Regions from separate parts of the Homo sapiens genome. Here region 1 is linked to region 2. The links come from fine-mapping of genetic effects on gene expression. A gene starts in region 2. The other region holds a variant in brackets. All regions are shown on one strand. Distances are from middle to middle.

Region 1 (15,006 bases), 170 kb before region 2:
GCCTTGGCCTCCCAAAGTGCTGGGATTACAGGCGTGAGCCACTGCGCCTTTTCTTTTCATTTTTTTTCTGAGATGGAGTCTTTCTCTGTCACCAGGCTGGAGTACAGTCATGCAATCTCAGCTCACTGCAACTTCCACCTCCTGGGTTAAAGTGATTCTCCTGTCTTAGCCTCCTGTGTAGCTGGGACTACAGGCGTGTGCCACCGTGCCCAGCTAATTTTTATATTTTTAGTAGAGACGGGGTTTTGCCATGTGGGTTAGGCTGGTCTTGAACTCCTGACCTCAGGTGATCCACCCGTCTTGGCCTCCCAAAGTGCTGGGGTTATAGGCGTGAGCCACTGTGCCCAGCCTCAGGCTTCTTTATTAAGAAGAAGTTCGGGCCAGGTGTGGTGGCTTACACCTGTAATCCCAGCAATTTGGGAGGCCGAGGTGGGCAGATCAGGAGGTCAGGAGATCGAGACCATCCTGGCTAACATGGTGAAACCTCGTCTCTACTAAAAATATAAAAAATTAGGCAGGTATGGTGGCGGGTGCCTGTAGTCCCAGCTACTCGGGAGGCTGAGGGAGGAGAACGGTGTGAACCTGGGAGGCGGAGCTTGCAGTGAGCCCAGATTGTGCCAGTGCACTCCAGCCTGGGTGACAGAGCGAGGCTCCGTCTCAAGAAAAAAAAAAAAGACGTTCCCTTGAAACAACAGGGCTTTTGTTTGTTTTGGTTTGTGTTTGTTTGTTATTGTTGTTTTAGATACGTATTTTTTTCTTTCTTTTTTTTTTTTAAGTGATGATGTCTCTGTTGCAGTGGCATGATCATAGCTCACTGTAACCTCAAATTGCAGGGCTCAAGTGATTCTCCTGCTTCACCTTCCTGATTAGCTGGGACAACAGGTACAAACCACCATGCCTAGCGAATTTTTAAATTTTTCATAGAGACTAGGGTCTCACTATGTTGCCTAGGCTGGTTTCGAACTCCTGGCCCCAAGTCATCCTCCTGCCTTGGCTTCCCAAATTGTTGGGATCACAGGCATGAATCACCACACCCAGCCTATTTTTAGATATTTTAATTCGAGCTCTACAGGAGGTTTAGAACACTAGCTTGTGAAGATAAACTTCATTTTCAAGGCCACACAGAATCTAAGTGGTCCTGGAATTAGGAAGGGCTTTGATTTTTTGGACCAAAGTTGAGAGTCCACAGTTTTCTGGTCTACCTTGCACTGCTCCATAAACTCATATTTCTTTTCTCTGAGCTGAAGAGCTCCCCTTCTTGGTGTCTAGTCTCAGGCAACTTATTCTTAAAAGTAAGCATTATTGAAATGCTTTGGGATTTTCACATCATCAAGGTCCATTTTGGTAGAGGCACTGACAGATTTTGAGTGTTCTGTGTGAAGGAACTCAGTTGAGGATTTAGTGGTCCATGTGGCAGGCTACTGCTCAGTAGCTTCAGGGAAACCACTGCTTGCCTCCCCTGTGGCCAGTGAGGATGATCAGAGGAGTCCCAGCAGGAATGCCCAAATGTAGTTTTCTTACATGTTGATGGGAGTGCATTGTTTCATGTCTAAACAGTTCTCAAATCACATCTTCAGGAGGGTACTATCTGGGCACTTTGATAATTTCTCACTTTGATGTCACCGTTCTTATTACCATCACCTAGTTTTGTCATAGTAGAAATAACTTTCCTTTTTCTGTGTGTGTGTGTGTGTGTGTGTGTGTGTGTGTGTGTGTGTTTTGAGATGGAGTCTTGCCGTGTTGCCCAGGCTGTAGTGCAGTGGCGTGTTCTCGGCTCACTGCAACCTCTGCCTCCCGGGTTCTCCTGCCTCAGCCTCCCGAGTAGTTGGGATTACAGGCGTGTGACACCACGCCCGGCTCATTTTTGTATTTTCAGTAGAGATGGGGTTTCACCACTTTGGCCAGGCTGGTCTTGAACTCCTGACCTTGTGATCCGCCCACCTTGACCTCCCAAAGTGCTGGGATTGCAGGTGTGAGCCACCACGCCTGGCTTTTTTTTTTTTTTTTTTGAGACAGAGTCTTGCTCTGTTGCCCAGGCTGGAGTGCAGTGGCGGGATCTTGGCTCACTGCAGCCTCCACCTCCTAGGTTCAAGCAATTCTTCTGCCTCAGCCTCCTGAGTAGCTGGGATTACAGGTGCCCACCACCATGTCCGGCAAATTTTTGTATTTTTAGTAGAGACAGGGTTTCACCATGTTGGCCAGGCTGGTTTCTAACTCCTGACCCCAGGTGATCCGCCTGCCTCAGCCTCCCAGAGTGATGGAATTACAGGCATGAGCCACTGCGCCTGGCCACCTTTGTCTTCTTAGTTGTGGATTTAACTGCTGTGGACATCTGCTTGGGCATAGCCTTCCCGGAGTACCTCTTGGATTGGGACTGTCTGTGGGTTTCTGTGCTAGGACAGGCTCCCAGATGTAGGAGGCTTCCCCAATGATCTCACCACTGGCATCGGCATCCTTAGCTTCTACTCAGCTTTTCCATCTGCCATCTTGCAAGATGGAAGGTTGTTTTGTTTTTGTTTTTGTTTTTTGGTTTATTTTTTTTGAGATAGAGTCTCGCTCTGTTGCCAAGGCTGGAGTTCAGTGGCGCAATCTCGGCTCAGTGCAACCTCCACCTCCTGGGTTCAAGTGATTCACCTGCCTCAGCCTCTGGAGTAGCTGGGATTACAGGCGCGTGCCACCATGTTCGTTTAATTTTTTGTATTTTTAGTAGAGACGGGGTTTCACCGTGTTAGCCAGGATGGTCTCGATCTTCTGACCTCATGATCCGCCTGCTTCAGCCTCCCAGAGTGCTGGGATTACAGGCGTGAGCCACCGTGCCCAGCCTAGGAGGGTTCTTAATGCAGCTGTTTTTTGGAGTTCTGGTTGCCTCAGCACACTGCTACTTGGGTCAATGACATTTTTACTCCCTTGTTTTGTAGCTCAATTGGGTATTACTGATGGGATTTTGTAATTATTAATATTTTCTTGTCTCCATTTTCTTCTCAAGTACTTTGTTGCTTTTGAGTAAAATGCTTGCTAAGGGTATAGTTTTCACATAAAAGCTCAAATTTAGCATGGAAATTAAGATATGCTCATACGTCTGCCATCCCTTATCTGTAATTCTGAAATACCTAGAGTTCTGAATAACCTCAAATTCTTTTGTTACTTGTTTATCAGCAAAACCTGATTTGAACTCAGTTTTTGGCAAAACTTGATCCAAGCTCTCTTAAGGCTCTTTTTAGTCTTTATTCATTCCCTTTAGTGTGACTTCCCATTTTGCTATAAAATTATGAGTGTGTTTGATTACAAGGTGATGTCCCAGACCCTACTGAGGGTGTTACATAATATAAACTGTATGTATGGCTGGGCGCGGTGGCTTATACCTGTAATCCCAGCACTTTGGGAGGCCGAGGCGAGCGGATAACCTTAGTTCAGGAGTTCAAGCCCAGCCTGGCCAACATGGTGAAACCCCGTCTCTACTAAGAATACAAAAATTAGCCAGGCATGATGGTGGGCGCCTGTAATCCCAGCTACTCCTTAGGCTGAGGCAGGAGAATCACTTGAACCCAGGAGGTGGAGGTTGCAGTGAGCCAAGGTCATGCCACTGCACTCCAGCCTGGGCGACAAAGCAAGAATCTGTCTCAAAAAAAAAAAAAAAAAAGTGTGTGTACCACTTTACCTTTCTAAAATCTGAAAAATTCTGAATCTGGAAACCCATTCTGCTTCAAGATAAATGGATCCTAGATTTATATCGGTACCGTACAGTCCTGAAATTCCATCCTATCTATTGGCCACTTTTACATCAACAAACCTTTGAAGTTTGGGGAAACTTACATATCACGCTCCCTTGGCAGTTGAACATTATTTATTTATTTTGAGATGGAGTCTCGCTTTGCCCAGGCTGGAGTGCAGTGGCGCGATCTTGGCTCACTGCAACCTCTGCCTCCCGGGTTCAAGCAATTCTCCTGCCTCAGCCTCCTGAGTAGCTGGGATTATAGGCATGCAACACCATGCCCAGCTAATTTTTGTCTTTTTAGTAGAGACGGGGTTTCACTATGTTAACCAGGCTGTTCTCGAACTCCTGACCTTGTAATCTTCCCTCCTCGGCCTCCCAAAGTGCTGGAATTACAGGCGTGAACCACCACGCCTGGCCCTGAAGATACATTTTAAATCAATGAAAAAAACAACAGGATTCTACCTCCTATGGTATATCCCTCCTGGCTGTCTCTTCTCTCCAGTCTTGCCTCTGCTGTGTGGGTTTCAGGCATCCATCTTCTCTACTCTGAATTACTGTGATAACCTCTGAAGTATTTTCCCTGCCATCTGTCTGGCCCTTCTCCCAGGTCTTCCACATACTGCAGCCAAGTCAGCCCGCTGTTGAAACCCTTCAAGACTCCCTGCTGTCCTCTGGATGAAGTCCAGACTCTTCCACGTGACTTACCAGGCCTTTCTTGCACTTGTCCCCAGCCACTTACTGTTTCTCTCTTTCTACCTTAACATCCTGAACTTCCTTTGGTTCTTTGACCTTGCCTCTGACCTTTTTCCATGCTGTTCACTCTTTCCCTGTTCACCTTGCTAACTCCTCTTTCTCTTTCTGGGTTGGATCAGATTTCACTTCTTCCAGAAGCCCTTCCTAGACCCTATACTTCTGGAATGGCGCCTTTTGACTGTACGCTCATTGCACCCTGTACTTCTCCTTTATGAGTGGGTGCTGGTCTGTCCCACTAGGCTACTTCATCCATAAAGGGAGAGTAGAGCTTTACCAAGTCAATGCTTAAGCAATATTTATTGGATGAATGTGTGATTAATTTCATAGAAATTTGATGTGCATTCAAATTTACTTATTGTATTACGGAACTTGCATTATATTCTCAGTGGAGTTATTTTCTTTCACGTGTGTAATTCAAGATAGACTCAGTGAGATTTTCAAAATTTGGAATGCAGTGCAAGGAAATTGAACTTGAGTTCTTTTGCATTTTGATGGTTAAAAATTTCCCATTTGTGGTGACATACCACAATAAGCCAGTGAATGTGGCTTATTGTTTTCTGGTCTATAGAAAATTGTCGCAAACTCTGTCATAATGTCTGGTTCTATATAACAAAGCTAGTCCTGTATTCTGCATGTGGCTGATGGAAACAGTGCTCTGTTGATCTGGTTCATGAAGAAATCTGTTCAATTCTGCATAACAGATGCCTTCATCAGTGTCCTTCCATGAAGGAGCTGATCTTCACAAAGAACACATAGTTTTGCATCCCACCACTTGCAGTATTTTTTTTTTTTTTTTTTTTTTTTTGAGATGCAGTCTCGCTCTGTCACCCTGGCTGGAGTGCAGTGGCATGATCTCAGCTCAGTGCAACCTCTACCTCCTGGGTTCAATTGATTCTCCTGCCTCAGCCTCCTGAGTAGCTGGGATTACAGGCGCACACCACCATGCCTGGCTAATTTTTGTTGTTTTAGTAGAGACGGAGTTTCACCATATTGGTCAGGCTGGTCTCAAACTCTTGACCTCATGATCTGCCTGCCTTGGCGTCCCAAAGTGTTGGGATTACAGGCGTGAGTCACTGTGCCCTGCCAGTATTGTTTTGTCTAAATTATTTGTGCTGATGTTTTTCCTACTGTGGTTTTCTTCAGATTACCCTTGCTCTGAGCCTGCAATTGACTCATGAACTTCTTTTCCATGTTCTAACCTTACAATGACTTCCTTGTGTTCACTCCAAATGTTTTTCCCTGGTTGCATGTAGAGATGTATTAGCTAAGGTACATGCTTAGCTGCTGTATCAAAGAGACCCTAATGTACAACCCAGGCTGGTAGAGCAGCTCTGCTGTATGTGTTAATTCAGGGACCCAGGTTCCTTCCATGTTGTGACTCCCCCCTTCCTTAGGATGTTGTCTTCTTTTACATGGCTGAAGTTGGGCCATTTCATGTCTCTGTTCCAGCTGCCTGGTAGGAAAAAAGAACAGAAATTCAGAGTAAGCAAATTCTTTTTCTATAGATGGATGCGGAAGTTGGACACATCATTTCCTCTCACATTTTCTCGGCCAGAACGTAGTCATGTGACTGCACGTCTAGCTGCTAAGGAGACTGGGAATTTACTGTCGGCTGTGTGGCCTCTGTCAAGCTAAAATTCTTATTACTGTGGAATAAGGGAAGGATGGATTTGGGGGCACAATTAATAGTCTGTCACAGAGGCTAAAACAGCTGCTTTTGGCTGGGCACGGTGGCTCACACATGTAATTTCAGCACTTTGGGAGGCCGAGGCAAGTGGATCACTTGAGATCAGGAATTTGAGACCAGCCTGGCCAACATGGTGAAACCCTGTCTCTCCTAAAAATATAGAAATTAGCCGGGCATGGTGGCGGGTACCTGTAATCCGAGCTACTCCAGAGGTTGAGGCAGGAGAATTGCTTGAACCTGGAAGGCAGAGGTTGCAGTGAGCCAAGATGGTGCCACTGCACTCCAGCCTGGGCGACAGAGCAAGACTCCATCTCAAAAAAAAAAAAAAAGGTTAAATAAACAGCTGCTTTTGTAGGTGATACAAGGTACAGCTAAGCTTTGAAGCCAGGCCTGTAGTTTCACCTTCCATATTCTTACTCAAGGCATTATACTTCTGGATCTGAAACCACTGGATCTGATGCCCTGCTTGGGATGAGTTCTTTATATTATCTTGCTTTCAACCCACACCTGTGTAATTTTATGGGCAGCGTTTGTTTCCTATATAGGAACAATTTGAAAGTGGGCTGTTTCTAGGCTTTCATGAATAGCAGGCTATGCTGTCATTGGGAATCTGGAGGGAGTTAATGAACACAACTTCATTGTTTACTTTAGTGAAATGTGGCAGCTTATGATAGTTTTGACAGTGAGACATGTGCTGTTTTGATCTCTCAGCTAAGATTATCTGATTTTTCAGGCATGTCTCAAAACTCACCAGGCCTGCTCACATGCTGCTGCTTCTGAAGCCAGGGTTTGGAAACCAGCTGCCCATCAGAATGAGGCTGTGACTTAGAATATTGGTTCTTGTTTTATTACCATTCCTTGTTTGGTCTCTCCAGAGTCACTGGCCTTTTCCGCTTCAATTTTCTTATCGGTGAAATGAGATATTAATTCCTCTTATTGACTTCAATTCAATTGCTGAGTGTATTGTTGCCTTTGGGAGGTTCTTTGAGTTTTCTGTGCCTTTGAAATAGTTGTTTTTTTTTATTCTGGTGTTTTGAGGCATGTTTCAAGTGAGTGCATTTACACTTCTACCATTTTAGGAGCCACAATTCAGTTATGTTGTCCCAGCTTGCTTGGCCCCATCCCCAGAGTTTCTGATTCAGTAGGTCTGGGGTGGGGCCCAATAATTTGCATTTCTTCTTCTTTTTTCGAGACAGAGTCTGACTGTGTCATCCAAGCTGGAGTGCAGTGGCACGATCGTAGCTCATTGTAGCCTCAAACTCCTGGGCTCAAGCCGTCCTCCCACCTCACCCTCCTGAGTAGCTGGGACTATAGGCATATACTACCATGCCCTGCCACCTTTTTAATTTTTTGTAAGGATGGGGGTCTCACTGTGTTGCTCAGGCTGGTCTTGAATTCCTGGGCTGAAGTGATCCTCCTGCTTCAGCCTCCCCAAATGCCGGCATTCCTGGCATGAGCCACTGCACTTGGCCAAGACTTTGCATTTCTAACTAGTTTCCAGGTAATGCTGCTGCTGGTGTAGGGACCTCATTTTGAGAACCATTGTTCTATAGCTGTAGCTATAGTTAGTTTCTGGTTATAGCTTCTTCCTTTTGTCCCTTCAGTAATAGTGTACACATCCGAAATCCCTGTCCTTGCTCTTTCAGGCCCAGGCATGGTATCTGGTCCTCTTCTGTTGCTAGCCCTGGGGTGCTTCATCATCCCAAGTTTATTTTTCTTCTCCTAACCTGAACCTTTGTAAATAGCCCCTTCCCTAATGAACGTCCTCAATTCCCTGTTTTGCGTGTCCTGTCTGTTTCTTGGCAAGACTCTGGATGATTCAGTACTCAATGAGGATTTTTCGCATAGATGGATGAAACAGGCTGGGTTTCATGTTTTCTAAGATAAAGGTGCTTCTCTCTTTTTCTCTTGGTCACTTTGACCAAGAAGAAAATAACAGAGTTTTTATTCTCAAGAAGAATAATATCGGGGCCACTCTGCTCAGAGGCCACTCTGCTTTGAGGACCCCTTCTCTCCTCCCTCATGCCAAAGATCAGGAACATTGGGCAGAGCGGATAACGATGCCGCCAGCGTCATTACATTTTCACGGCACTTTCAGTTGTGCTGAGCGTGCAAACATTTCAAGGAGACATTTCTAAGAGGTGGCTAGCACAGCATGCCTCTAATGCCCTATGTGAATTGGAATAGAGTACTAAAGAACTGTTCAATATTCACCCCATCCCCGCATATGCAAGCATGCACGTGGGTTCATTGTATATGTGTGTGTGCACGTGTGCACAGACACATTTGTCCTTCGTTTCAAATGCAACACAATGGATGGAAATTGCCTTCCTGGTACTGGGGTATGGATGCAAACACCAACAGAGAAGCAGCCGCTACTTCCAAACTGAACACATGTGAGATTTGCCCTTTAATTAGCATCTGCAGCTGCTGCCATCAGAAGGGTCTGTCTCTGTTGGCCTGAAAGTCTTTGCTTTAAAAGAGCAAGTCCATTATAGCTCCAAGCCAGGCTCGTCTGTCAGCTGCTGTGCTTTCTCTGCCATCAGCGGGGTTGCCACATTGTTTTGGGCTGTTTCACTCTAGGACTCTTTCCTCCTCCTGTGCCCCCAGCCTTTGATTACCATGCCTTGGTGATCCTCATTTGGGTGACCTGCAGCTGCTCATTGTGTGTGCAGGAGACATCTCCAGTCCTTGTAAGGAGGGAAGATCACTGGCTTCAGTGCTGATGGACTGGTTATTTTCCAGCCCTTTGTCGTCAGTGATCTTGTCTTGATATGCAGAAAGGCTCCAGGTAGTCACTGAAAAAAATATAAGCAGCAGAGGTGATGGCTATATGAAAGTCACGTTTCATCAAGGGCATTGCTGCTATGGAAACTTTCAATTCACTTGGAGTAGGGAGCCATATTGGTTCCACAGCCTCCTCAGCAGTGGGTCCCAACACAGTGCTGGGCTAGCTGCCTCTGAATCACCGCAGTAGCTCCTTTTACTATAGATTCCTGGGTCCCACCCATGGAATGTGATCCATGAAGTCTGGGGTTATTCCCTGGAATCCTTTAAGCTCCCTAAGTGGTTGGGATGGGAAAGAGATATGCTTTATGTTACTATACTTCTTCTTATTATTATTTTAAAATTCTTGCCGGGCGCAGTGGCTCACACCTGTAATCCCAGCACATTGGGAGACCGAGGCGGGTGGATCACTTGAGGTCAGGAGTTCGAGACTGGCCTGGCCAACATGATGAAATCCTGTCTCTACTAAAAATACAAAAATTAGCTGGGCATGGTGGCGCATGCCTGTAGTCCCAGCCACTCCGGAGGCTGAGGCAGGAGAATCGCTTGAACCCGGGAGGCAGAGGTTGCAGTGAGCCGAGATCGTGGCACTGCACTCCAGCCTGGGTAACAGAGTGAGACTTCATCTCAAAAAAAACCCAAAAAAACAAAACTCTTTTTCATTATACCGGAACGTCAGCTTTATGGAGTCGGGGATTTTTTCTGTTTTATTCACTGCTGTTTCCCTAACATCTAGAATAGTGGCTGGCACGATAGGCACTCAAGTATTGATTTAGATGAGTCTATTTTATTTTCTTTTAAATTTTTAATTTTTATTAGAGGTGGGGTCTGGCTTTGTTGCCCAAGCTGGTCTCAAAACTCCTGGCCTCAAGCGATTGTACTGCCTCAGCCTCCCAAAGGGCTAGGATAGGCATGAGCCAACATGCCTGGCTTGTCTTATTTTTAACAAGCACTTCTGGTGATTCTGATGGACAATCAGGCTTGGGAAGTTCTAACCTAGAGGACCTACAGTTGTCTTGGGGTAGAAGCCAAGGCTATCCTGGTTTTTAGAATCAGTGCCTTACTGGGCATCTCTGAAGAGTAAAAGTCAGGGACAGAGTTACATTTTTGGACAAAACCAGATGCTGTGAATGGACTCTTGGTCACAACCTGGGTGGCGACTTGGTCCTTAACTTCTTCATCATTTTCTGCTGACCCTGTTCTTTGGTTCACAGCAAGTCACCTGATAAGAAGACTCAAAGACTGCTAGTTTGTTACTTTAGATGATGCTTTTGGAACCTCTTGGTACCATTTTAACAATCCAAACGTATTTTATGAAAGCACTCAAGTCCTGGGTCTTTATTGTATCTTTAAGCTCTAACAGCATGATGATTGAATAAGCTGTGGTTGGCCACACACAAGCCATCTTCCCCATGGCCTCCATTCATACTAGAATGAGCAGCTATACCCCAGTAGTATAGTTTTGGGATATGGGTAACATCTTGGGATAGCCACATTTACTTAGTAAATGTCTGGCTTACATTCTCCTAATGGTGCACTGTTGGAATTTTTGGTGTGGTAACCTGGAATAGTGTTGGTGGGTCAAGTTTGATTAGCATCTTTGATAAGGACCCGGTCTATTTAGAGGTTTGTCATTGAGTGTGTCTGTTTTGGCCTCATGTTGTGAAGCATGCTGTGTAGCAGCTGTTGTAATTTTTGTTGCTTGTTTTCTCAATCAACCCTGGTTTTGAAGAAATGGGAAGTTGTTCCACTCTTAGACTGATCTGACTTGGGAGGGGATTTTCAGTTCAGGAAGTTGGATCTTCTGAATGGAAGCAAAGAATACATGTCTTTTTGCCACTTTACAAGCTGGCTCTTGTTTTCTGAACTATTTTACTGGTCATTGCAAATAGAATGTCAGGAGTAGCTGCCAAATACTAAGTTGTGTTCAGTTTGTCAGTTCTTAAGAGTTGCCGGTGGCTGCTCTGCTATGCGTATGACTTTCTCAGCCTTAAACTTACAAGCCATACTGTTTTTTTCACATCTTTAATACAGCCATAGGAAATTTATAACTGTGGCGTGTCGTCATAAATATGCATTGTTCTTATTTTAAGACATTTCAGTACTAAAAGTATAAGTACTTCTGTTATTATCTGTGAATTTCTTTCCTTTTTCTTTTTTTGGATATTTAAGACCTTTTCGATGTCAATATATATTTAAAACAGACATATAAATTAGCATTCACCCACATACCCAGGGCCTATGGAGAACCAGGTTGGGATGAGTGGGTGAGCTACAGGCAGCCAGGTGGCTCCTGTGGGCTCCTCGAGGACTGGGGTGAGTAACTAATGTCTGCTAGGAACTTGGGGGAAAGAAGGTGTGTATGTTAGGTGCTGCCCCCTTCTAAGTGTTCCTCTTGTTCATAATTTTTTTTTTTTTTTTTTTTTTTTTTTTTTAGATGGAGTCTCGCTCTGTTGCCAGGCTGGAGTGCAGTGG[T/C]GTGATCTCAGCTCACTGCAACCTCTGCCTCCCGGGTTCAAGTGATTCTCCTGCCTCAGCCTCCCGAGTAGCTGGGACTACAGGCATGCACCACCATGCCCAGCTAATTTTTGTATTTTTAGTAAAGACGGGGTTTCACCATGTTGGCCAGGGTGGTCTCGATCTCTTGACCTTGTGATCCGCCTGCCTCGGCCTCCCAAAGTGCTGGGATTACAGGTGTGAGCCACTGTGCCCAGCCCATAAATCAAAATTTTTTCAGCAATTGTTATACAAGTGGAACCTTACTCTTCAAATGCAATTGTCCAGTGTCTGGCTTAATGTCTGCTGTTGTCAGAAACCATGTGAATGGAGTAGATTCCCAGGTTATAAGGAGCCCCCAGGGAGGATGCGCGAGTCACTGGCTTCTCCAGGGGTCTCTGGTTTGGGGTTGCCTTGGTGCTGGGCACACTTCCTGGAGATTTTACTGGACCAGCCTGAGGCCTTTGGGGCTCTGTGCAGATGCTCTACTTCTGACTTGTCTAGAGCTTTCTTCTAATTCTGGACTAAAAGCAAGCAGGAGTTTGGAGGATGATGGTGAGAATTCACATCCCCGAGTTGGCTTTTGGAATGCAGTAGTTTGTGAGATTTAGTGTTTTTTTTAAGAAGTATATTCAGATCTTGCCTTTTTCCCAGAAAGCATATGAGACAACTTCCAAGACATTTATAGCATGGCTAATAAAATGGGAAATCAGGGCGAAGGACAGGAGAACTCAATAAGGGTTAACATGGCTACAGCGATTGTCTAAATGGGTTCTTTTTGCTGGCCAGAGCAGAAAGGATCATGCAGTAAAGTGGGGGGGAAGAAAGGGAATTGAATGGTAGGTGAAGACTTCATGTTGGTGCCAGGCACTGTGCCAGGCCCTCCTAGGACCTTGTCTTACTCAATCCTCACACAGTGCTGCAAGAGGATTAGTCTTATCCCTGTTTTAGAGAGGATGAAACTGAAAGGCAGCGAGGTGAAGTCACCAGCAGGAGGCTGAAGCCGCCCAGGCTAACTGGCCTTATAGCTACCTAGGGACTCAGGAATATCACACCTGTTTATCATCAAAAGGAGAAAGGATTTCAGTTCCTTGGGGTAGAAGAGTTTCTTTTTGCTAATCAAACATTTTACTTGAGGCTTCATATTCTTCTTCAAGATTTTTTTCCTGTGTATGTACCAACACATGTAATAATTCCTTGTTTATTTCAAAAAAGGGGTTGTACTTTATTCTTTACAAGATTTCACTTTATATTGTCATGGACAATTTTCCATGGCAGTATGAATAAATGGAATCTGTTTGTTTTTAATATCTTTGTCTTATCCCATTGTTTACATATGTCATATTTTAGCCAGTCTCTAACTGATGGATAGCTGAATGATTTCCATGTTTTTTTCCCCTGTTACAAACAATACTGCAAGGAATCTATTTATCTTTCTATTTATCTGCAAACTATTGTAAGTACCTGTAAATTGTTAGAAGTGGAATTACTAGGTCAAAGGGGATATTTTCACATTTAAATTTTGAATAGAGGCTGTCAGTTGCCTTCCACACTGACTATAAAAGGAAAAGATTGTATCACATTTATTGCAAGCCTTCTGTATTCTGCTGGGTGCTGAGGGGAATACAGAAAGGATATAAGAGTGGTTGCCCTCTAGGAATATCCGTCTACACTGTACCTAATCCTAGGGAATGTCTGGGGTGTCAACTTGTGGGTGGGAAAGTGGGTGGATTTAATTCAACTGTTCAAGCTTGCCTTGCAAACACTGTGCATGGTGTCTGGGACTAGTCTTTCATTATATTGATTCCCCTGGGTAACAGATGTAATTTCCTTAGGGCAGGGACTTCATCCTACATGACTTACAGCGTGCCTTACACATCTTCTTTGCTTTGTGGAGACCTTGTTATTATAACACGTCAGGTGATATTCGAGGATCTAATTGAGGCATTCCCTATTTTTGGGTGTGTGAAGAATTAATAACTTTGGCATTCTATACAGGTCATGGAATATCAGCCTGGAGGGGACTTGCTGTCACTTTTGAATAGATATGAGGACCAGTTAGATGAAAACCTGATACAGTTTTACCTAGCTGAGCTGATTTTGGCTGTTCACAGCGTTCATCTGATGGGATACGTGCATCGGTAAGTGAGACTCTGGTAGCATTTTTATGCTGAGGATTTTCCTGTGTCGCATAAGAGTTCCTGCATGGAAATGAGTGGATGAGTGATTTCAAGATCAAGATAACGCCCCATCCAGTTTTTAGCCAGTCTACCAATAACTGGCTGAAAGCAAACTTTCCAAGATGGAGGACATTTCAGCTTGCTTATCCAGCAGTGCAATAGATCTAGAATTGTAATGTGCTCAAGTTTGCTAGTAATATCTATTAATGTAGCTAAATAAGACTGGGAACTCTTGCATGAGTTCTTTGGGTTATATGATAGAAGAACTGAATTTGGTTTGCAGAAGGAAATGTCATACCACATAGTAGTGTAAGACCATGGAGCTGTACTTCTCTAACTCTGCCCGTTAGAATTTACAATTTTTTTTTTTTTTTTTTTTTTTTGAGACAGAGTCTAGCTCTGTTGCCAGGCTGGAGTGCAGTGGTACCATATTGGCTCATGGCAACCTCCGCCTGCTGGGTTCAGGTGATTCTCCTGCCTCAGCCTCCCAAGTAGCTGGAATTACAGGCACGCACCGCCATGCCCAGCTAATTTTTGTATTTTTAGTAGAGATGGGGTTTCACCAGGTTGGCCAGGATGGTCTTGATCTCCTGACCTCATGATCCACCCACCTTGTCCTCCCAAATTGCTGGGATTACAGGCATGAGCCACCATGCCTGGCCTACAAAATCCTCAGTTGGTAAGTGGTTCTTCATGTCTTCATTCATCTGATGTTTTGTGTACATCTGAGAATGTTGTGGGAATACAATGATTGTTAGTCCAGGAATCACAAAATTTGAGATAGAGTCTCAGCTTTTCCATTGCCTAGCTACATGACCTTGGGAAAATTTCATAGCTCCTTTTGGCCTTAGTTTTCCTCATGTGAAATGTGTGTCTCTAGGAGAAATAATCCATTGAATAATATGTGTTTCATTTCTCTTCCTTTTCTTTCTCTCCTATCCTTCCTTGCTCCCTCTCGCCCTTTTTCTCTTTCCCCCTCTCTCCCTCTCTCTCTCCTTCCTTCCTTCCTTTCGGTTAAATTCATTTTGCAAAATGTATGCTAATAATTTATATCCACCAATAGAGGAGGTCTATATAACAGAATACATAAACAAAGATTTTTGGCTCAATTGAGATTCTAGGTTAGCACTTGCTTGCTGATTGGGATGGAGGAGGCAATTCATGGTCCTGATTTTCTTACAGAGACATCAAGCCTGAGAACATTCTCGTTGACCGCACAGGACACATCAAGCTGGTGGATTTTGGATCTGCCGCGAAAATGAATTCAAACAAGATGGTAAAAAATGGAATAAGATAGCTTAATAGAGTTTATACTAAAAAGTATTCTTGGTCCTCCTAAGTTTGGGAAGTGTTGGGATAAAATGGTGAACAATGTTTTGGAGCCTTTGGCA
Region 2 (15,222 bases):
TTAGATCGCAACCCTCTTCCCCCGAACTGTATGAATCATGTTCCAGGTAGTTTCTTCCTGTGGGGCTTGGAGGGAAAGCAATTTATTGAAACCTCGATGCCTGAAAGGCTCTTACAAGATGGAGAAGTTTTACTGGGTCTGTATTTCTGTACCAAATAGCTTCCCATCAAGGAGAGTTGGGCTGTGCAGGCTGTTTCCCGTGGGGAGCCGCATCCTCCCCAAAGGGATTCTGACAAGGTGCTAATGTACCACATAAGTGACTGCTAAGGTCACTGAGGTGTCCATTTACACCTGTCAGGCTGAAATTCTTCAGGCACCACAAGTGGGATGAGACACAGGCTTCCCCAGTGCTGGGCTGTCACTGACTCAGTGCCACCCTCCAGGGCCTCTTCAGCCCTGCCCTTGGCACGAGATCAAGCTATGGTTCCATTTCTGCTGTCTGCGTTCTGTGGCCAAGCAGACCTACTGAATACCTGAGATGACCAGGGAAATGACTTGTAGCTCCCTTAGGGCTAAATTTCAACAACCTGACAGGAATTAAGTTCTGTGGCCTTTAAGTGGGGGCTATAAATGCCTATCTGACTGGGCAGCTTCAGCTCAAGAGAGGCAAGAGAAACAAGAGTATGTCTAGACTGTACAGCCCCCACCTGCACGCATGTGGTATAAAATAACTGTGTTCATACCAGACACATCGGAGCACTTTTGGGAATCCACCATTAAAGCATCAAATACTTCAAAGTCAGTTTTCTTCACTTGAATGATGTTGTTAACTGTGCCAAGCTGGCTGGTTACTATGGGCTGGGAAGAGACAGATAGGCAGAAATCATAACGTGGAAGGTCTGCGGAGTTATTCTTCAGAGGACTTGGAATTCCTGGCTGGAAGGCCTCATCTCCTGGCTAGCCACCCTGCTCATCTTGGTCAAGTATGCCAACTGTCTGACAGGTAGTGCTGCTACTCAGCTCTGCCACACACGGGGACTTTTACTAGCTGGGCAAAGGGACCTAGCGGCAATCTCTTGGGAAGGTGATTTGTTTGGAATGTGCGGGCACCCAGAGGACCAGAGGTGGGAGGAAGAGTACCTCGGAAGGGTCGTGCGTCCACTGACCATCCACAAAGAACTTGTACTGATGCTCTCCTTCCGGCAGATCCAGGATGGCTACAAAGTTATTGTGGCTGCAAGGAAAAAGGAAGCAGAGGACTTCCGTGGGGTGGGCTGCCCCCCGAGCTTACTTGCCAAACCAGCTACAGAACAAAACGTTTCCACATAAAACCAAGAGTTCAGCTGCAGGAGAACAAACATTTTTAGCCCATTTAGACAATTCAGCATAATGACCTCAATCTGAAAAGGCTATAAGGAAGCAGCAGTGCGACACAGTTTCCTGAAAACTCACCTTACTCAAATACCAGGAAACCACATCCCTAATGTTAAAAGGTCAACAGTCAGGCATTTGTGCGTCTCAAGCTCGCAAGGCTCCTGGATGCCAAGGAGGATGACAACACAAGATAAACAGAAGCTGCCTCGTTTTACCCTTTGTCACTTTGCCTTGGGCAGGAGAAGGGATCAATTGAATAGGAAGCTCAAATGTTCTCTAAAGAAACTTGCCTAATGACTGAAAAACCAAACTCCGGAAGAGCCCCTTCACTGGGTTGTTTTGTCCCCTGGCTTGAACTGACCTGTGACTGCTGTGCTGAGTGGCTCCCTCCTTCTCCAATGGAAACGCTGGAAAGCAGGCAGCCCCTGACAATAGGCCTGACACTTTCTCCCTCATTTTATCAAGAATACTCACTAAAGGTGTTCTCTCACTGACAACTTAAGACAGAAGTCCATGCTGGGGTTCCTGATAAAATGTCTTACTATAATCCTTGCTAATGACACCTACATAGCATGTATTTTTCTTTTCTTTTTGGAGACAAAGTCTTGCTCTGTTGCCCAGGCTGGAGTGCAGTGGTGCAACCACTGCTCACTACAGCACTGACCTCTCAGGCTCAAACAATCCTCCCATCTCAGCCTCCCGAGTAGCTGGGGATACAGGTGTGCACCACCATGTCCAGCTAATTTTTAATTTTTTTGTAGAGATGGGGGTCTCACTATGTTGCCCAGGCTGGTCTTGAACTCCTAGCCTCAAGCAATCCTCCTGCCTCAGCCCCCAAAAGTGCTGAGATCATAGGCATGAGCCCCCATGCCCAGCCAACATGTACTTTTCAAACAAAGTATTACGCAGAGTCAAAGTTAGATGAAACCTCAGAGATGATCTGGTCCAATATTCCCTCTTTACAGAAACGAACGCTGAGGCTCAGGTTAACTAACGTTAGGTGACTGACAGCATGGCCAATGTGGGCTCAAATGTGGGTTTCTAAGATTCCAGCCCAGTGCTCCCTTACTGCATTAAGACAGATTTTTGTGTTTCTGTGGAAAAGTCCTGACCGAACAGATAGCTGAGGATCTGAAGTGAAAGATGTCTGTGACACAGAAATATTCTCTTTCTTCTGTACTCTAAACCTAGAGACCACCAAGGTTTAACATTTGAACCTTAAGACTTATTAAGCAAAATTATTTTTCCACTAGGCATCCATTTTATAGAAACATCCATTTTCTGTTCTCTCTCAGAGATGTTTTAGAAAGAAGAGAATTTATGTTAAGACAAATATGTGAACACTCCCCAGGCAATTACCTTCTGGTGAGGGGAAGTTTACTCCAGTTGTTGAAGGACCCAGATAAGTAAACTTCCTTTCCGCCCCCCGTCCATCGAAACACCGTTGGCCGAGCCTGGGCGGGAGCTTTATCATTCACTTCCAGATCATGCTGCCAGGCCAGGAATTCCTCCTTCTCTGGTGCCTAGAAGCAGAGCAGTTTACTCAGAAAGCCATAAGCGAGCTCCCTACAACAGACAATATTGACAATTCATTCTAAAGACGCAGCTGTTACTATCTTGGTTCATGGTTAGGATCGGAAACTTACTAGTGGTGCCTCAGTTTCCTTGCCTGCAAAATAGAAATATATTTTTTAAGGTTGTGAAGACTGAGACAGTCCATGTAAGTGCTCTATATAGTGTCTGACACAGTGAGTGCTAATTATTAGCTATTGTTGTCATTAAAGAAGTTGACATCAAAATTCTAGAAGAAGCTATGAAACACACTTGGAAGGGGCTACTACGAATCCAAGACTAGCTTAATGTCATGTTCCTCCCTTAATCAAGCAAGATTTGAAGTACAGTCATGTGCATGATGTCTTAGTCAACGACGGACTGTGTATATGGTAGTCCCATAAGATTATACCATATTTTTATTGTTATCTTTTCTATGTTTAGATACATTTAAGTACACAAATCCTTAAATATACTTGTGGAATAAGTGTCTACAGTATTCAGTAGAATAACATGCTGTACAGGTTTATAGTCCATAAGCAACAGGTTACACCATATAGACTAGGTGATACGGTTTGGCTCTGCGTCCCCACCCAAATCTCACCTTGAATTGTAATCCCCATAATCCCCACGTGTCAAGGGCAGGACCAGGTGGAGGTATCGATCATGGGGGCGGTTTCCCCATGCTGTTCTCTGACAGTGAGTGAGTCTCATGAGATCTGATGGTTTTATAAGCATCTGGCATTTCCCCTGCTTGCTCTCATTCTCTTCTGCCGTCCTGTGAAGAGGTGCCTTTTACCATGATTGTAAGTTTCCTAAGGCCTCCCCAGCCATGCGGAACTGAGTCAATTAAACCTCTTTTCTTTATAAATTACCCAGTCTCGGGTATTTCTACATAGTAGCATGAGAACAGACTAGGTTTGTGTAAGTACACTCTATGATGTTCACACAATGATAAAATCACCTAATGATGTATTTCTCAGAATATGTCCCTGTCATTAAGTGATGTATGACTGTACATGAAAATTTAAGAGGAACAATTCTAGAGCTGTCAACTTGAAAATAGGCAAATCCAGATTTTGAGGAAGGGAAAAACTACTCACAAAGTTCTGTCTAGGGACTGGGGAATAAAGCAAGACAAAGACTGAACCCTCATTAGGATAAATGATAACCTCCAGTGTGGTAAGCTCCGTATAACTGAGGTATTCCAGAATAAGAAATAAACTCATCCAAATCTATCTGGATGACATATGTAGTCATGCACCTTTTAGATTTTTTCCCAGTCAGAAGCCAAAGACTTAAAAAGAGCAGAAGGTTCAGGCTGGAAAAGACTCTTCAGGGAGTTAAGCAGGCTTCTAGCACCTTCATCTCAAATACCGACCTCAGCTTATCCAAATGATGCCTGTATTCTTTGAATTCTAACAAGATCTACATATTAAATAACAGACTGGAATCACTTCACACTAAGGATAACTAATTATGACCAAAATAGCACCCTAGTGTAGTTAAAAGAATTCACGACTTTTTTGGTATCTGGGGATTTCAGTAACTTCTAATGAAGTGAGAATGGACGCTGCTTGAAATCATTCCCCATAGATGATGTGTGTGCTCAACATTTCCTGGAGGAGTTTTGGAATAGTAACAGAACAAATACTTCTGAAGAAAGTAGTTTTGATTCCTTTGGTGTCTTAAATAGCCTTCTTGGGACCAGGGACCAAAATTACCTCCTGGGGAAAGGACGTCAAGTCATTAGAGAAACATGATTCTAAAGTTCACTTTGCACACAGCTCTTCAAGAATGCAACAAATTCAGAGAGCAAGTTCAAACCACAGGTTGTAGGGCCACATAAAAGCAGCCTCTTTGTAGTCAGGCTCAAAACTAAGATCCAAAAGAAGGTGTGAGATGTGATCACCTCGCTCAACATGAGGACAAACACAGATGGAATGAGCTGCCAAGCAATTAAATGGATGATGATTAACATGAAATTGGATACTAACAGGGTATGTTGGGCAGAGGGCAGCTTTATCTTTCCTAAACCTACTTTGTTCCTTGAAACAATTAGTTCCTTTTGGACATAACACATAAATACCAGCTGCCAGAATCACTAAGTGTCCTTGGACTGAGCCCTGCGGCTGGAAATATCCACCATATGAAGGTGGTTAACAGGAGTGTGGTTGAAGCAGGAGTTAAGTCACCTGAGTTTTTGAATTTAAACAGGCTGCAGCAGGAAGAAAAATGTTTGCACTGGCCTGCTTAAGCACGATTAAGTCATATTTAAACAACACTAGAGAGAAGTTCAGTAGCTGCTGGCTGCCTCCTTCAGACAGACCCTCACCGCCCACTGACCTCTAGAAGCTGAAAGACTTTTCTATGTACGCTTTAAAAAAAAGCAGGGTGAGGCCGGGAGTGGTGGCTCATGCCTGTAATCGCAGCACTTTGGGCGGCCCAGGCGGGCGGATCACTTGAGGTCAGGAGTTCAAGACCAACCTGGGCAACATGGCGAAACCCCACCTCTACCAAAAATACACAAAATTAGCCAGGCATGGTGGCACACGCCTGTAGTCCCAGCTACTCGGGAGGCTGAGGCAGGATGGTTTGAGTCCGGGAGACGAAGGTTGCAGTGCCCCGAGATTGTGCTACTGCCCTCCAGCCTGGGCAACAGAGTGAGACTCCATCTCAAAGAAGGAAAAAAAAAAAATAAGTAGGGTGGGTTCAGTGGCTCACGCCTGTAATCCCAGCACTTTGGGAGGCCGAGGCAGGCGGATCTCCTGAGGTCAGGAGATGGAGACCATCCTGGCTAACACGGTGAAACCCCGTCTCTACTAAAAATATAAAAAATTAGCCGGGCGTGGTGGCGGGTGCCTGTCGTCCCAGCTACTCGGGAGGCTGAGGCAGGAGAATGGCGTGAACCTAGGAGGCGGAGCTTGCAGTGAGCCGAGATCGCGCCACTGCACTCCAGCCTGGGCGACAGAGCGAGACTCGGTCTCAAAAAAAAAAAAAAGTAGGCTGAACCGGCCAGCACCGTAGCTCACGCCTGCGATCCCAGCACTTTGGGAGGCCAAGGCATAAAGATTGCTTGAACCCGGGAGTTCGAGACCAGCCTGGAGAACATTGTGAGACCACCGTCTTTTTTATTTTTATTTATATTTTTTTTTTGAGACGAAGTCTAGCTCTGTCGCCCAGGCTGGAGTGCAGTGGCGCGACCTCGGCTCACTGCAAGCTGCGCCTCCCGGGTTCACGCCATTCTCCTGCCTCAGCCTCCCGAGTAGCTGGGACCACAGGCGCCCGCCACCACGCCCGGCTAATTAGTGAGACCACCGTCTTTTAAAAAATAAGTAGGGTGAATCAAAAGTGTTGGGCAGAACTAAACACCTCTGGCAACTGCCGTCAGCTGTTCCGCTCTACTTTCAGCTTGTATATGTACCTGGTTTGCCTCCAAAATGGATAAATTCCCAAACTAACTTTTACAAAAGCTCCAGTTTGTGTAAAGGTGAGGGAATTTGTCTCAAAGCAGTGCAATTAATTACACCTAAGAGAAAAGCAGAAGCTGGGGCTCAATTACTGTTAGCTCGACTCTGAATTAATTAAGAATTTGAAACTCTGTCCCAGAGCTGCTTTCTCCTTAATGATGTTAAACCAAGTGAGCACCTCCTCCCTCAGGGTGACTTTCTCATATTGGTAATTAGACACAGGTTCTTGGACCGCTAAGAGAACTCTTACAGGACCATCTGGCTTTTAAGTGCACCGGGTAATGTACCACCTCCCTCTCCGTTCTGGTGTTTTTCGAAAGGATGTGACGGGAATCTAGTGGAGGGTTCCTCTCCTCAACATTAGTCAAGGGGAATCGGGTTCCTCCACACCGCTCGCACCTTGATTTCCTCGGAGTGGAAGAGGTCGGCGTCTTCGGGGCTGTCCATCAGGATCTTGGGCCTGTCCCCGTCCTTGGTGCCCCCCGAGCTGTCCCTCCGGGGCGTCTTATGGCCACCATGCCGCTCCAGCGCGGCGCGCTCACTGCTGGTATTGCCCATGATGGGGGTCTGCGGGGACACAGGGAAGGCGGACGGCGCCTCACTGCAGGAAAGGGACCCTGAGCAAGGGACTCCCGGAACCGCGGGTCCCAAGGAGCCTGCGGAAGGAGTCGGAGCACCAGGACACCACGCCCCTCGGGCCGGGAGCCGGTTCCGGCTGAGTCGGCAGGGTTGCCGAGCTCTCGCAATCGCGCTTTACCTGCCCAGGCAAGCCGCGGCAAGAACGCAAGGGGCGCGAAGATAAACCGACACTTTCCCAACCGCTTCACCACCCCTCAGCGACTTCCGCTTCCGGCGACTCCGTAAGTCGGCCCGGCCTAGGGCGTGGAGGTGGCGGCGGCCAGCTAAACGCGCGAGGCTATCTCGATTCCATTTCCGCTTCCGGTCTTGAGCGGTGCGGTAACAGGTGCCCCGGGCCGTCTCTGCAGGCCTCGGAGCGCGCAGTCGCAGTCAGCAGCCGGCCGCCCAGGGCCAGGCCCAGGACGAGGCGCTGCCGAGGGCCGGCAGGGGGCACCCCAGCGCGCGGGCAATCTGAGCCGTTCATGCGCTGGGCTGAATAATGCCATTTAGCTATCTTTGCTCACTTATAGTTGATTCTACACTCTGCAGCCAGAGGGATCTTTCTAAAATGCAAATCTGATTCAGAAACTCCACTTCTTAAAGCCCTTTTAATGCACGTGTTCTCACGCTTTACAGTGCATTAGGTTAACCTGGAGCGCTTGTTAAATGCATCCCCCACTGCAGACCTGCAGAATCATGATTTCTACAGATTAGGGTCGGGGGTGCAGGCAGTCTTGCAGGTATTTGAAAAAATGGCAGACCATAAGATCTCTGGAAATTTCTTATGTCTAGTAGGTTGGGGGTTGTAAAATGCTGGAGTTATTCGTGTATTTTTATTGAGTGTGCAATCTTTTGATAGGTAATTTTGCAAGATATCTTGTAATCACTTCGGAAACATCCTTCTGCATAAGATGCATTAGCGTTTGTCATTTACTCTGGTCAGTGCTTCAACAAGAAGTGCATACAAATACGGTAGTAAAATATTCTCATCTTCTCATTGTCAGTCATTGTCATATTTTGTGGGTTTTTTGGTGTGTGAATATCTCAAAATACTTTGCATTTGCCGGGTCAGGTCATGCATTTCACCCACTGAACATTTATTTAGTACCTAAAAAAGTACCAGACATTGTGCTAAGGAAATGAGGAACACAAGATGACTAAGATAAGGTTTCCTGGGGGGAATTCAGCAGTATGCATCAAAATTTAAAAATGCACCTTCATTTTGACACACAATTTTACTCCTAGGAAACTTGTGCAGAAATACACACATGAAAATTATTTACAAGCATTATCTACAAAATATTTACATGCAAAAATATATTCTAAGATGCACTTGTCACCCCCCATGCCCCCATATATTTTAATTTCTGAAACTGGATGCTTTTTACAATAATGGAATCTTACACTTGGTGAAATAAGGAAATGAAAAACTACAAAATCCTAAAAGTTGTTCAGTAGGAGAATGGCAAAATGAATGGAATACATTCATTTTGTAGAATACCAAGCAACTTTTAAAAAGGGAGAAACCATTTTTAGGTCACTATGGGGAAGTGTCTATGATATTGCAAGGTCCGGAAGCAAGTGAGAGAACAAGTTCAAGGGCAGGAGCTCTGAATTCAGCCTGGCCATGTTCAGATTCTGGCTTTACCATTTAGTAACTGTCACCTTAGTCTCTTCTTTTGTGAAATGGGAACAAAAATAACACCTACTTCATAGGCTTGTTTTGTGAATTAATTGGGAACGTGCATAAAAATGCTGAGCATAGCACTTGACTCTTAGTAAACACTCAATAACTGTTAACACTTTTATTAGCACTATTAGGCTAGCAAATGGAAAGTTCTGGAAGGGTATACAACACATTGTTAATAGTGGTCTTCTGTGGGGAGAGGAGGGAGATTGCAAATAGGAGCAGACAGAAAAGGGACTTTCACTTTTCATTTATATAGTTCTGTATTTGAAAAGTTTTCTATTGTGAGGATGTACTACTTTTTAATTTAAAAAAATAAGATATGGTTCCAGCCCCAAAGGAATTAATACAGTACAGGCTGGCACCGACCCACAGAAAAGCAATAATATAGCTAGGTAAGGGATCCTGTGGGAGCCCAGAAGGGACTTAAGCCAGGCCAGGAAAAGGGATGGGAGCCAGGAAAAGGGATGGGAGCCAGGAGGGTCTTCCTGAAGCTGATGACTGAGAATTTGAATGTATTCAGTATAATCAGAAATGTTGAATGTGCTTGCTGAATTAAATAAGCTAAGATACTGTGGATGACCCAGGATATCTTCTTTGAGCTGCTTTTCTAATAGTGGCCCTGACTTGGTTACATGAGACAGTGGGGTGTTGAGTTTTGAAATCTCTCCCAAACAGCCGGAGAGATAAGAAAGAACACATGAGCTGTGGATTCTTTATCTGAGCTATGCAGATGCTTTGATGCATGAAGAAAGTTTTAAGACATCTGCACTAGCTTGAATAAGATAACAGTGAAAGCATGGGTGGCCCTTGATGTCAAATACAATCAACAATATCCTGAGGATGCCACCAACTGCTGATTGGAAACTCTTACCACATTGTATCAAGATTTCATGACAAAGAAACTAACATTGGTATCTATCAGCTATTGACCCCATATTGAAAATCATGGGTAGGGTAGACTCGCCAATTACAAGTGTCTACTTGGGTCCCAGCTGTGTCTCTCTTGGGTCATTTTGTGTTACTTATCTGTGTAACAATGGTTTGTGACTTTCCTAAGCATCAGAGCGTCTCATCTTTCTCTGATTCTCTGCTGATATGGATGTCAGACCATTCCATCTTGGGGGCTGGAGGTGTGCCAGGAAGTATAACTGTTAGCACATTGCTGTGTAAAAGGCATCATCTACTCACTGCTGTCTGTCTGGCACCAGGGCAAAGACAAATGATAAATACCCTAGATTCTCCCCCAAACAAACCAGGGCAATTTTAACACAGCCACAGCTAGGAGTACCCCTCCCCCACCCCCGCAACCCTGGCTTCAAATTCACTCCAGCTCCAAGCACAAAAAGAAGTAGGTTTTCAAGTCCTTAAAAGTCACCCAGAGTGAGATAAAATCTCATTTATCCTTAAATTTATGATTAAAAGGGTTAAGGATAATGTTTTGGGGCCTCCTCCATAGGATGGATTAGAATCAGTATAGCACTTCTGAACTGACCAACCCATTTGTTTTATATAAGGAAGAGTCTAAGTCCCAGAGATCGAACAGTTTTGCCTGAGGTCACTCAGATGATCATAGGTCATACTGAGACTGAATTCTGGATCACCTGGCCACTCCCCACTACATCATGGTCATGGCACCTCATCAAAAAGACCTTTGGTTCCCCAGCTGGCCTGTCTACAAACATTTGTACTGTTCTGAAGAACCCTCCCCATCTAAGAACAGCCAGGGCTCTGATCACAAATAACTCAATGGCAATATTGAGTGCCAATTATGAGCCAGGCACTGTTGTAACTCTTGGTTACAACAGTGAACAAAACCAAGTTCTTGCCCTCCAGAGGAAAGAGTCCACACACATATGCACATGTGGTGAGAACAGGCAGTGTTCTCACTAAACATCGGTAGCTGGAGGAAGAAATTTCACATTTGGACTATGCTGTAGACTAAATTGTATCCCCCCAAAATTCATACATTTGCACTCCCACTCCCAATTTTATAATGTTTGGAGGTGGGGCCTTCAAGGGGTAATTAGGGTTAGATGAGCTCATGAGAGTGGGGCCCCCATGATGAGATCAGGGTACTTATGGGAAGAAGAGACGCTGGAGAGCTTGCTCGCATGCTGTCTATTCACGCCCATGCTCAATGGAAAGGCCATGTGATGACAAAGCAAGAAGGCGGCCATCTGCAACTCAGGGAAAGAGCCCTCACCACACATCAACCATCCTGGCACCCTGATTGTATTAGGCCATTCTTGTATTGCTATAAAGAAATATTTGAGGTTGAGTAAGTTATAAAGAAAAGAGGTTTACTTGGCTTATGGTTCTGTAGGCTGTACAGCAAGCATGGCTCTGGGTATCTGCTTGCTTCTGGTGAGGCCTCAGGAAGCCAAGGGGGAGCCGATGTATTGATGTATCACATGGCAAGAGTGGGAGTAAGAAAAAAAGTGGGAGGAGGTGCCGCACGCTTTTAAACAACCAGATCTTGTGAGGGCAGCACCAAGACGATGGTGCTACACTATTCATGAGAAGTCCACCTCCATGATGCAGTCACCTCCCACCATGTTGGAGGCCTCACCTCCAACATGGGATTACATTTCAGTGTAAGATTTAGGGGGAAAAGTATCCAAATTATATCACTGATATTAGACTTCCAGCTTTCGGACCTGGGAGAAGTAAATCTCTGTTGTTTAAGCCACCCAGTTGATGATTTGTTATAGCAGTCTGAGCTGACTAAGACAGACTCAAATGTGTGTGGGCTGCTAGGATAGAATTACAAGCTTACTTTTAGGGCTTAACCAGATTTCCACCAGGCCTTCTGAATTTTGCCTAGCCAATGTAAGTAACACTGCCAATGTTTGAGAAACTTGTCCATCTTTTCTTGCTAGACATTCTTGTGTTCTCTTTGCACTGAGATGTGAATATTGTGACAGAGAGTCATCAACATAGAATTAAAAGAAGTTCATTCTACAGCATTTGGTCTACAACCTTAATTGGCAAATAGCCTCATTTTGTGACTTTTAGGTTGTCTGAGAAAATTCTGTTTCTTGACCTGGGTTGGTAATTATTAACATGTTTGCCTTGTAGTAACTTACTAAGCCATACATTTCTTTTGTGTAGTTTCCTGTATCTTTATTTTATTTTCAATAAAGTTTTTTTTAAATAAATAGCTTCACTCACAGGGTAAGCTGAAACCTAGAAGGGAGAAGTGCCCAGTTCAAGGTAACACAATGTTCTTAATAAAGTTCACCTCAAGTCTATCCTCTTTTTTTTTTTTTTTGAGATGGAGTTTCACTCTTTTCACTCAGGCTGGAGTGCAGTGGTGCAATGTCGGCTCACTGCAACCTCCGTCTCCCGGGTTCAAGCGATTCTTCTGCCTCAGCCTCCCAAGTAGCTGGGACCACAGGCGCACCCCACCACGCCTGGCTACTTTTTGTATTTTTAGTAGAGACGGGGTTTCACCATGTTGGCCAGGCTGGTCTCAAACTCCTGACCTCAGGTGATCCACCCTCCTCGGCCTCCCAAAGTGCTGGGATTACAGGTGTGAGCCACTGCACCTGGCATCTCTATCCTCTTTTAAGAGCTTTGAAGGAATGGAGGAGAAAAGGATGTACACTTTCTACCCCTTTTCTAGAGGACAAGTGACAAACTAAAGCAGTATCCAGGCAAAGATCCAACGGAGGTGAAAACAATGAGAGGAAGTCTGTCTCTGTCTCATCTCTTTAAAATGTAAGCTCCCAGGGATTTGAATATCAAAGTTTCATAATCACTTTAACATATGCTGTTGGGACCATCATACCCCATCTGCATGTGCCCTTCTGCGCATGCCCCAAACTTCCTAACTGTGAGCAGGTGCAACTCTGAGGGCCTTCTGGAGAAAGCTTTGTCGACACAAGTGGGAACCCAAGGGGACCAGAGAAGACACCCTGAGAGAAGCCCTCAGCCAACCACAGAGGAGCCAGTTCCCTTGCCCCTTGGATGTGCTAACTCTAATGAAGCAGCGTCATTTTTCTGGGGTAACACCCGAGGTTCGATGTCTCATGCTAAGGAAATTGAAGACATGGCCATGCAAGGAGTGGGTTTAAGAGTGGAAAGTTAAATAGATGAAAGAAGGAAGAGAGCTTCCTCATGCAGAAGAAGGGGTCCTGAGTGGGTTTCCCTGGTTTGGGGCAAGGTGTGGTTGGTTTTAGGGATGAGCGTGAGGAGATGGTATATGATTTACATGGGGTGTAGTGGATTGGTTGGACCAGATGTGCCATTTTCATAGCCCGTGAAGAGGCTGGTCATCCCACTCTAATCTTTTATTATGCAAATGGAATTTTAAAAAACCTGGCTGGTGCCATGTTATCTGCACACGTGGCAACAAAGAAAAGGGAAGAGGGAACCTCCATGTTGAATATACCTGGTTTCCAGCTATCTGTTTTCTATTGGCACAGCTGCTGGTATTTACCTATGCAAGCCTCTAGCTTGCTTATCTATGCTTGCAGCTTGATTTTTCAGGCTGCTTTTTGTTAAAAAAAGAAATGATTTGGAGACTGCGTTTTTATTAAAAGAAAAACCTTACTGAGGACTCTCTTACCCTCACTAACTGTCTAAATAATTTCTTTTTAGCTCTCGTATAACTAAGATATATTCCCTACCGTGTCTCAGAGGTCCCCAGTGGAAATGCACCCTAGATGTCCACAGCAGTAATTGGATCAAGGAATTCATTGATTATCTTCCTTTCCTTTTCTTTATCTCTTTTTAGGAGCACCTTCCAAATAAATACTCAGAAACACCTCCCAAGACACACTAATTGCATGAAAATCCTAGTTCAACCACATAGGTTACAGATGAGGAGGGACAATAGCTTGCTGAATTATAGAAAAAGTTAGTGGTCATAGATCATAATTTGGATCTTATGTCTTGGTTTCTGGTCCAGGGTACTGTGAGATTATCATTCTTCTTGATATGATGAACCATGGAGACTTTTAAAAAACAGGGATCGGCAGCATTATCATAATAGACAGAAGGTGGAAAGAATCCAAATGTCCACCAAGAGATGAGTTTGTAGGCTGGCACAGTGGCTCATACCTGTAATCCTAGCACTTTGGGAGGCCGAGGTGGGTAGATCAACTTGGGGCCAGGAGTTCGAGACCGGCCTGGCTAACATGGTGAAACTCCATCTGTACTAAAAATACAAAAAATTAGCTGGTTGTAGTGGCGCACACCTGTAATCCCAGTTTATTGGGAGGCTGAGGCATGAGACTTGCTTCAGCCTGGGAGGCGAAGGTTGCAGTGAGCTGAGATTGTGCCACTGCACCCCAGCCTGGGCGACAGAGAAAGACTCTGTAACAACAATAACAAAATGAATTATAAACAAATTGTGGTATGTTCATACAGTGGAATATTCTTCTATCACAAAAAGGAATAAAGTACTGTTACATGTTACAATGTGGATGACCTCAAAAATATTAACATTATGCTAAGTGAAATAAGCCAGACACAAAAGGTCATATATTATATGATTCCATTTATATGAAATATACAGAATAGATATATCCATGTCAATAGAAAGCAGACTGGTGGTGACCACGGGCTTGGCGGAAGAGGGAATGAGGGCTTTCTTTTGGAATGATGAAAATGTTTTAAGACTTGGCATAGATGGTGGTTCCACAACATTGTCAATGTACTAAATGCCTATGAATTGTTCACTTAAAAATGTCTACTTTAAAATTAACATTTATGTTGTATGAATTTTACCTCAAAGAAAATAGGGTTAGTCCTAGAACAAATGGTAGAGGTGTACAGTTTATCTTTTTTCCAATTTATTTTCTGCAACTGTCTTACAAAATAAACCTCTCCGCACCCTGTCCTTCCCTGTAAGTGTCTCATGACTCATGTCATCTAGCCCATCAGAACCTAACTAGTTCATGGCACTTGTTCTAGTTAATATTGATTTTTTCAGAGGCCTTCAGTTTTCTAATTGCATTAATTCATTTCTTTATCAATAACTTTTTCATGGCAAAAACTCCTATCCACCGGGCACTGTGGTAGACACTGGGGAGAGAATTGTGGGCAAAATCAAACCCAGGCTCTGTCCTGAGTGTTTACGATCTAGTAGGGAAGAGAGAAATTAATCGAACAATCATCCAACAGTCTTCTGTGACAAACGCTAAGAAGGAGAAGTGTGACCTAGTGAGAAGGATGTGACCAAGTCCTGAGGTCAGAGGAGGCTTGCTGAAGGAAGTGACAATCAAGTTGAGATTTGGAGATTGTAGGTGTTAAAGTGAAAGTTGTTTATCAATCCTTATTATGCACTCGGCATTGTGTTTGATGTATGAACTCATGTAATGCCACCAACAGTCCTTTGAGGGATCTACTATTATTACCACTTGCATTTTTCAGGAGAAAATGAGGCTCAGAGAGATGAAGTGACTTATTCGAGGTCACACAACTAGAAAGTCATGAAACCAGCATTCAAATGCAGGCAACCAGACAGATGTCAACATTTTAGCCACCACGGACAGATCATTGAGTGAGGGATGAAATCATTTTGGGTGGGCCAATGGATTGGGCTGATCTAGATTATAAGTATAAAGCTGGAAT

Direction of the effects. Positions count from the first base shown, and alleles are read on the strand shown. Sizes are in standard deviations (SD) of each study's normalised expression.
For the expression in whole blood of the gene that starts at base 7,011 in region 2, T is the high allele of the variant in region 1 and C is the other (moderate effect, 0.65 SD a copy in Lepik 2017).

What was found. PIP is the estimated chance that this variant, and not a neighbour inherited with it, causes the effect. A credible set is the group of variants that fine-mapping cannot tell apart.
Region 1: its variant is the best candidate, but not a certain one, in a credible set for the expression of PRKAB1-AS1 in whole blood (Lepik 2017, PIP 0.52).

What each region holds. Positions count from the first base shown.
Region 1 is chr12:119,832,656-119,847,661 of GRCh38, reverse strand. CIT (citron rho-interacting serine/threonine kinase) reads left to right here. Exons shown (of 48, transcript NM_001206999.2): 6 at 13,434-13,576; 7 at 14,798-14,891. Among named protein-coding and RNA genes, the nearest start is that of CIT, 37 kb to the left of the region's middle. The variant T/C (reference allele first, on the strand shown) is at 11,418.
Region 2 is chr12:119,659,916-119,675,137 of GRCh38, reverse strand. PRKAB1-AS1 (PRKAB1, TMEM233 and CCDC60 antisense RNA 1) reads left to right here and starts at 7,011. Exons shown (of 3, transcript NR_188494.1): 1 at 7,011-7,195. PRKAB1 (protein kinase AMP-activated non-catalytic subunit beta 1) reads right to left here and starts at 7,005. Exons shown (of 7, transcript NM_006253.5): 1 at 6,735-7,005; 2 at 2,674-2,837; 3 at 1,081-1,174; 4 at 684-798. The coding sequence starts at 6,893. LOC124903033 (a long non-coding RNA gene) reads left to right here. Exons shown (of 2, transcript XR_007063485.1): 2 at 1-738. RefSeq lists enhancers at 5,675-6,310, 6,749-7,158, 9,293-9,437, a silencer at 7,259-7,528 and a cis regulatory region at 9,356-9,373.